Homo sapiens: one gene and its partner. The main gene of each other region encodes a partner of the protein of the gene in region 2 in a complex. Each region holds a gene or a part of one and is shown on either strand. Other genes may lie near its edges.

Evidence for each region. The genes of interacting proteins can lie anywhere in the genome.
Region 1: the proteins of CDC42 (region 2) and IQGAP2 are in contact, whole or in part, in a crystal structure (PDB 5CJP), measured with the Homo sapiens proteins. Residues at the interface, in NP_001034891.1 of Homo sapiens: Gly12, Ala13, Ile21, Thr25, Asn26, Lys27, Phe28, Pro29, Ser30, Glu31, Tyr32, Val33, Pro34, Val36, Phe37, Asp38, Tyr40, Phe56, Tyr64, Leu70, Gln74, Gln116, Leu119, Asp122, Pro123, Ser124, Thr125, Glu127, Lys128, Lys131; in NP_006624.3 of Homo sapiens: Gln893, Thr894, Asn924, Tyr925, Ser927, Asn928, Gln929, Arg930, Glu931, Glu932, Arg976, Gly977, Asn979, Gln983, Asp1067, Leu1068, Leu1069, Pro1070, Tyr1071, Lys1191, Phe1192, Asn1193, Lys1196, Tyr1197, Leu1200, Val1201, Thr1202, Val1203, Ser1204, Lys1205.

The regions. Positions count from the first base shown.
Region 1 is NC_000005.10:76,401,826-76,406,084, reverse strand, and holds the start of IQGAP2 (ras GTPase-activating-like protein IQGAP2), read right to left. Parts: upstream 2,801-4,259; 5' UTR 2,540-2,800; coding exon 2,494-2,539; intron 1,762-2,493; exon of another isoform or gene 1,710-1,761; coding exon of another isoform or gene 1,589-1,709; exon of another isoform or gene 1,554-1,588; intron 1-1,553. UniProt on the Homo sapiens protein: Binds to activated CDC42 and RAC1 but does not seem to stimulate their GTPase activity. Associates with calmodulin.
Region 2 is NC_000001.11:22,080,209-22,083,708, reverse strand, and holds part of CDC42 (cell division control protein 42 homolog isoform 1 precursor), read right to left. Parts: intron 1,988-3,500; coding exon 1,915-1,987; intron 1-1,914. UniProt on the Homo sapiens protein: Plasma membrane-associated small GTPase which cycles between an active GTP-bound and an inactive GDP-bound state. In active state binds to a variety of effector proteins to regulate cellular responses. Involved in epithelial cell polarization processes.

The sequences.
Region 1 (4,259 bases), on a different chromosome or scaffold from region 2:
GGAGTCAAGTGGGTAGGAGAGAGAGCAGAACAGAAGCTCAGACCCAAAATAAGCAATAGACAACTTAATTCAAACTACCAAAAAGTTGTGTTTAAAGCCCAGTCTCAAACATCTTATACTCAGAACGTTCAGCACTAGAACTGAAATTACAATGTATTGCTACTTTATTTTTAAATGCTAGGGGTAACACCTGTTTCTTATAATTTGAGGTTTTACTGAAACTGTATTTACCAAACCAATAAACAAGAAAAAGCACAGCCCTAGAACACAACAGAGCAAGGACAATCCTGTGTTATCCTTCCCTAGCCTTCCCATGAAGAGCTCACAGCACGATTTTCAGTCTCATGTTGATAGGAGGCTCAGAAAGCCAACAACAACCAGAAATTACACTAACACACCAAATAGCCCTCTTCTGCATGAATAGGTAATGTTAGGTAATGCCTATTAACGCCAAAATCTATTCTGCTAGATATCATGTTCTGAATACACTGAAAATACACCATTCATAAACCAAAATTATAAAAGTGTTCATTTTAATGAGATAACTGTCATATTAAAGCCTTAATATTTCAGGGTGACAAGAAAGTCTGGAAACATAGGCAAATATTTTCCATTTTGACAGTGTTAAGTGACCAACTTGAATGCCAGCACTTGATGAGTGGAGGGAAAGTAACCGGGAGTGATTCCAACAAGATGGCACACCACCCCCTTACACCACATTGGTGAAGAAAGCTGGATGAAGATTTCCAAAGAAAGCGGCCCTGTGGAGTGGGCTTCAGGCTTGCCAGATCTGGACTCCCTTGATAGCTTCTTCTGGAGTGCACTTAAAACACAGATTTATTCCGTGAAAATCAAGCAGCATCACAGATGCACATGCAGGGACTGACAGAAATGCTGCATTCATGTACCACATTCACGGAAATTTTGCACTATTTATTGCTCATGAGGGCCGACATCAATCATGTGATAGCAAGAAATCATTTGTTCATGTAGATTCACCTAGTTTGCAGAAGTTTGTGGTTATCTTATCATTTGACACAGTGAAGCCACCATATATTCTGAGAGCTGGTCACATTAAAGTACTTCCACCAACCTGAGGTTGGCACTGCAAACACTGAATGAGCACAGCATTCCTCCTTGAACCCAACGGGCTCTGCTGTATCTGTGGTTTACCAAAAGGCAAAAAGCTGGGTCCCACCTGAGGTTGGCACTGCAAACACTGAATGAGCACAGCGTTCCCTCTTGAACCCAAGAGGCTCTGCTGTCTGTGTGGTTTACCAAAAGGCAAAAAGCTGGGTCTCAGTCAACTGCTGAATGCATTAGAGTACAGAGGCTGTAGTCCTCAGGCCTCCCCCTCACTGCAAGGGTAACACAGGAAAGATAACCTCCCATCTTTGACACGCCAGCGGGGAGGAGGGGAAAGAACCTACACAAGTTGAGGAGCCCTTTTTCAGTTAAGCAAGTCAGTGGCCTTACGCACCATCCAAAACCACACACACACACAAACAAAACACCCTGCTGAAGGTATCACCACCTTAACCCAAACCTGGTACCTCTGCCACCAAGGCCAGCCTGGGCAAAGATTAACCTGTGGTCTTCGGCCTTGGGTTCACTGACAGGGCCACCTTGGAGAGACAGCAGGCCAACTTTCTGTTTGTTTTAAAGGAAATGCTTCCTGGCACATGTTTAGGACTCTGAACTCTGCACATGAAGCCACGTGGTTGGTGTTAATCTGGCTCCATCCACTCACGATCGGCCAAAGCAACCTATTTCCGAGGGCAGCCCCTGGCTGGGTAATCGACACCATCTCGTTCAAGTCACGCGGGCTCCCGCCGGATTCCCCGGAGCCTAGTGCCGCGTCCTCTCCACACAGCAATCCTCCCGCGCGAGGGGAGCGGGGGGGAAAGGGGTTGGGGGGTTTCAGAGGGGAGGGACTTACACCTGTGAGGCCAATGGCTCTAGCGGGTCAGGTGAAGTTCGAGGGCGCGGGACAGGAGGAGACTCCCGCCCTTCCAGTCAAGCCGGCTTTGCACTAGCAGAGTGCGCCGGCGCCCTACTTGCGGTGCCCACCTGTAGCCACAGCAAACAAACTTTCCTCCCCTTCTGGGTTGGAAGAATCCGGTGCCTTACGCCACCCCCTGGCCCAAGCCGGCGGCGACCCGGAGCTCCGCGGACTCCTCACCTGATACCCCTAAAATCCCAACCTGGTCTGTCCCAGAGCGCAATCCCCGCACTGCCCGCGCACCCCGTTTGGGTATGCGGAGTGGAGGGTCTGGGTTGCCAGCTGGATATTAGGAATTGGGGGGCGGGAGGAGCGGGGGGACGCGATTCACTGCCCTTTGCAACTCCAGCTCCCAACTTTGCCAGCCGCGCAGTTGCTGCCTTCCAATTTCCTCTGCGCCGCGCAACCGGCTCCCTCGGCTTCTCCAACGCCGTCCTCGGGGAGGGAGCTCCCCAAGGCCAGCAGGAACCCCGCGCGCCCGGCGCACTTACAGCCATAGCGGGGTCTCTGCAGCGACGGCAGCTCTTCGTGTGGCATCCTGCGCGTCTCCGGGGGCCCGCCCGGGGCGCGCCCCCCGCGGCTACCCTCGCTGGCCAGGCTCGCGGGCTCTGCGCCCCGCCGGCGCGCTCGGATCCCGCCTCTCGCCGATTTCCCCTAGCCGCCCGAAGATCTGCGACCCACTCCCTCGGTGCTCTCTCGCCAGAGCCAGCCACGGCCGCCGCGCGCTGACACTGAAGTAAAAGTGAACTCTCCTCCCTCGCTCCCTGGCCGGTCGCCGCCGCCTCCCGCAGCAGGTTTCCTTTCTCCTCCAGCCAGGCCCCGTTATTCACCGCGGTGGGAGCGCGCGCCGAGACGCAGCGACCCCTACCGCGTGTCGGGCGCAGCGCCCAGGCCGCGTGGACCCGCCCCTTCTCCCCCGGGGGAGAGGGAAGGGGCCGAGAGGGACGCTGGGCCGGGACCCCCTGCAGCTGGGGCCCCCGCACAGCTGGTGGCCTGGGGGTGGCGGCCACCCCGCCTTATTTCTCGCTTCTGGAGAGTTTCGAGGGTGGAAGTGAACCAACGCGGAGAAGTGCAAGAAAAACCGCAGAAGTCACAGGGAGCCCTTCGTGTCCGGGGTGTTGCTCAGTTACTGAGGGACAAACAGCGCGGTTCCTTTTCCTCTGGGGAGATTTCACGTTGACTTTTGTTCTTCTTCTTCGTCTTTTTGGTTTTGTTTTTTTTTGTTTTTTTTTTTTTTTTGCTTCGAAAGTTGCTTCTGTCACTTTTTGTCTACAAAATAACAGGGTTCCCCTTATGACAAGAAACTGAGTGTGTGTGTGCTGGAGGAACAAGATAACCCAAGGCAACCACTCAAAACACAACTGCGAGTCATCCCCCTCCCTCCGATCACCTTGTGCCCGCCCCCGCCCCAGTGTGCAGAGCCTTCTCTCAAGCCCAGCTGGGGTCGCAAGCCACAGAAACCTTTTCCGGCTAAGCTTTTAAGGAAATTAAACTGCATGTGGCTGTTTTGAAATCGGGGTTTTCATGCGGTCGCCAGGAGCTATTTTTCTCTTTGTGTCTCAGCGTGATAAAATCTGGAGGGAATGCGGGACGCTTCCGTACCTGTGCCCTCACCTATTTGACAATTGTGGAATGTGTGGGTGACCCGATAACAGGAAAAACAAACTGAGGGAGGGCGATAAGAAATTATTTAGAGCCGGGCGCGGCGGCTCACGCCTGTAATCCCAGCACTTTGTGAAGCCGAGGCACAAGGATCCCTTGAGCCCAAGAGTTCCAGACCAGCCTGGGCAACATAGCGAGACCCCGTCTCTCCAAAAAATGAAAAAATAATATTAGCCGTATTAGCCGGGCGTGGTGGTTGCGCCTGCAGTCCCAAGCTACTCAGGAAGCTGAGGTGGGAGGATTGCTTGAGCCCGAGAGGACAAGGCTGCTGTGGGTTGTGATTGCACCAGTGCACTCCAGCCTGGGTGAGAGTGCAAGACCCTCGGAGGCGGTGGGGGGATGGAAATTATTTCGCTGAGGAAATGGTGGCATAGTGACACTAATCATTTTTTATTATGCAAGGATACAGAGGATGAGCAGCTGTTTTCCATTTCATATAGGAGACGCAGTCCTTCTCAAACTTGTTGAAACTCACATTCTTGGGCCCCACCCTCAGAATTTCCGACTCAATGGGTCTGGGCTGGTGCTCATGAATTTGCATTTCTAATTTCTAGCATACTGCCAGGTGATGCTGACACTGCAGAGCGTGCTTAGG
Region 2 (3,500 bases):
CCACAGAAAATTTGAGGGGTGATAAAAATGTTACACATTTTATTATGGTGGAGGGTCAGCAAAATGCATCACACTGAACACTTAAAACGATTTTTTTTTTTTTAAAGACGGAGTCTCACTCTGTCAGCCAGGCTGGAGGGCAGTGGCAGAATCTCGGCTCACTGCAACCTCCGCCCCCTGGGTTCAAGCAATTTTCCTGTCTCAGCCTCCCAAGTAGCTGGGACTTAACAGGCATACACCACTACACTGGGCTAATTTTTGTATTTTTAGTAGAGATGGGGTTTCACCATACTGGCCAGGCTGGTCTCAAACTCCTGACCTCAGGTGAACTGCCTGTCTCAGCCTCCCAAAGTGCTGCAATTACAGGCGTGAGCCACCGCGCCTGGCCTTAAAATGATTTTTATTGCACTACGCATCAAAAAAGCTTTCAAAAGTACTCGCCAGAAAATGTAAAGGCTTATAAATAATAAACTTTGAAATCTGAAAATACTAATTTTCAACCACAAGTAGCCATAAATTATCTTTTCTCGCCAGGCGCAGTGGTTCACACCTGTAATCCCAGCACTTTGGGAGGCCAAGGCGGGCGGATCACCTGAGGTCAGAAGTTCGAGACCAGCCTGACCAACATGGAGAAACCCTACCTCTACTAAAATACAAAAAAATTAGCCGGGTATGGTGGCGCATGCCTGTAATCCCAGCTACTCAGAAGGCTGAGGCAGAAGAATCGCTTGAACCTGGGAGGCGGAGGTTGCGGTGAGCCGAGATTGCACCATTGCACTCCAGCCTGGGCAACAACAGCAAAACTCCATCTCAACAAAAAAAAAAAATAAAAATTTTCTCTGTGCCTTTGGACACAAATGAACACAGAAGAAAACCCCTCATTTATCATGACATTATGGGTCATTGTTTTCTCTATATTCCAAATTTAATATACCATTACTTTTATGATTTTAATGTATTAAAAATTTCTCTAATCTTTACTGTCTCTCCATTTCACGTTCTCAATTAAATCCAAATAGTTCCTCGTGGTACACAGTGTAACACCACATTCCATGGAAGCAACATGTTAACTTGCAAACAGTAACAGTAACTCAAAGCACAAAGTTTAGAATTCCTACATTCTAAAGATACTCTAAAGGATATCTTTCTGAGATTTTCCTCTGGCTAACTGAGCTGATAATAAGACGGCACATAGAGAAAAGTCAGAAATTAAGATGTGCAGCCACTCTTGAAAACAAGAAATAGCACTGAGGAATTAGGTACATTTAAGGAAGAAAGTAATTTGTTCTTACAATTTGGATAGCTGACAAATGTCAATACTGTGAGCAGATAATAGTTCACTCTCAAAATATTTTCAGATACAGTTTAAAATAAGCTATCTATCGTAAGAAACTAAACATGTTATTAGACACATAAATTGAATATGCCTTCAAATATCAAGAGAGTAATAATAATAAATACTGTAAATGGCTTATGACCTTATAACCTTAGGCATATTTAGGAAACTCTAGGCTTTAAAAAGGAGCAGGTAGGGGTGAAGGGAGAGAATCAGTGGGCATGATTCCTATGAATTCATTCCCTTAGTCCCTCCCCAACCACTAATGCAGTCCCCAGTTCTCTGCAAGGTGCACGCATCAGGATTTTAGTTCAATTTGGAGCTTGTATGATGCACTCTAGTCTCACTCTACTTCATCTACTACACTGTTCACCCAGGGTACTCCAAACTCCTATTTGCCGACCCAGGTCTGGGACTGCTCCTTGGTCAAGCATCGACAATCATTATATTCAATCCTGCTAACTAATAACAAAAGGCAAGTACTTTGCTCATGTGCTAGTTTCTCAAAATGTCCACAAGAGACAGACAACTAGCAACTGTTAAAGATCAAAACAGTATAAAAGACATTAAGTTTTCACCTGCAGTATCAAAAAGTCCAAGAGTATATGGTTCTCCACCAATCATAACTGTGACTGCATAGTTGTCAAAAACCTAAAAACAAAAAAATACAACACTGTTAGTGTGCAAGGAGAGAGTTAAAATGGGACAGGACAACTCTTAAGCTAAGGCAGTGTTTCCTTGCTAAGACTTAATCGTCCCCTAGTCCATCCATCATCCTTATATAACCAATCTTGCCAACCAGTCCTTGCATGAGCTAAATGATTCCTGGAAAAAGACAAAGGATGTGTTCTGAGATTTCTGCTCTACCCCAGCAGCCTGGATAAAGAGCCAGAGAAGGTTTAGAGGTGTCACAGGAGCAGAGTCCTCTAGCTACACAAAATGAACCTGTTCAAGTTTGAAACTTTTCAGACAGTGGTCTACCTCAACATTCAATCTGATTCCTAAGAAACTACTTCTTCATAGACCATTTCCTTTTCATCTAGAAATAAAATATCCTAGATCCATGACCTTTCTTCCTTTCAGAGTCCTAGAAAAGATGAGCCTTGTTATAAACAAGCCCATTTGAGAGAAATAACGGTTCCCTCAAAGTACTCAAAGTGTCCAAGAAAAAGCTGGCAGATTATTTGCTGGGAAGTTTTTTTTTGAGACAGAGTCTCACTGCGTCATCCAGGCTGGAGTGCAATGGCATGGTCTCGGCTCACTGCAACCTCTGCCTCCTGGGATCAAGCGATTCTCCCACCTCAGCCTCCTGAGTAGCTGGGACTACAGGTGCATGCCACCACACCCAGCTAATTTTTGTATTTTTAGTAGAGACAGAGTTTCACTATGTTGGCCAGGCTGGTCTCAAACTCCTGACCTCATGATCCACCTGCCTCGGCCTCCCAAAGTCCTGGAATTACAGGTGTGAGCCACTGCACCCAGCCAGCTGGGAATTTTATGAGTAAAATTCATGTTATTGGGCACAAACTGCATGATCTAAGACATCTTCTTTAACAAGATGCTTAATATGTAAATAGACCATAAAACCCTTATCAAATTCAGTAAAGCATATGCTAATATCGGTTGTACGAAGTTATTTGTGAAAATGGGAGGTTTAACAATGCTAAATGGGAAAAGACCCAACACAAATTCTGGAGTCTTTAGAATTAATTTACAATTGAAAAGCAATGCTTTCATATACAACTATAATCTGTCAATTTACAGTAAAAATTTTAAAATTAAATGATATCTATAAAAAGAAAAGCAAAGCTTTCCAACTAGGAGAAGAATGCCACATTTTAAGACCAGCCCTACTTAACTTTTAGGTACCTACTCTGATTTTCTGACTTATGTTTTAACAGATTGTTCCAGAGCTTATTTAAATGTAAAGAAGAGAAGCAAGGGCATGAGGGAGATGACAGTTAAAGGAAAGTCGGTTCTTAAAAACAGGAACAAAGAAATTGAATGAATGTGGTTAAGCTCTCAAACCAAACAGATTATTTTCTTAAATCACACTTAAGAGACTCAAAAACAACCCTCCTTTACTAGATTGTTCATATCCAAAACTAGACTAAGAATCAGAAAAGCTGGCTTCCATTCCAAAGTCTACTTATGCTAGTGTAAT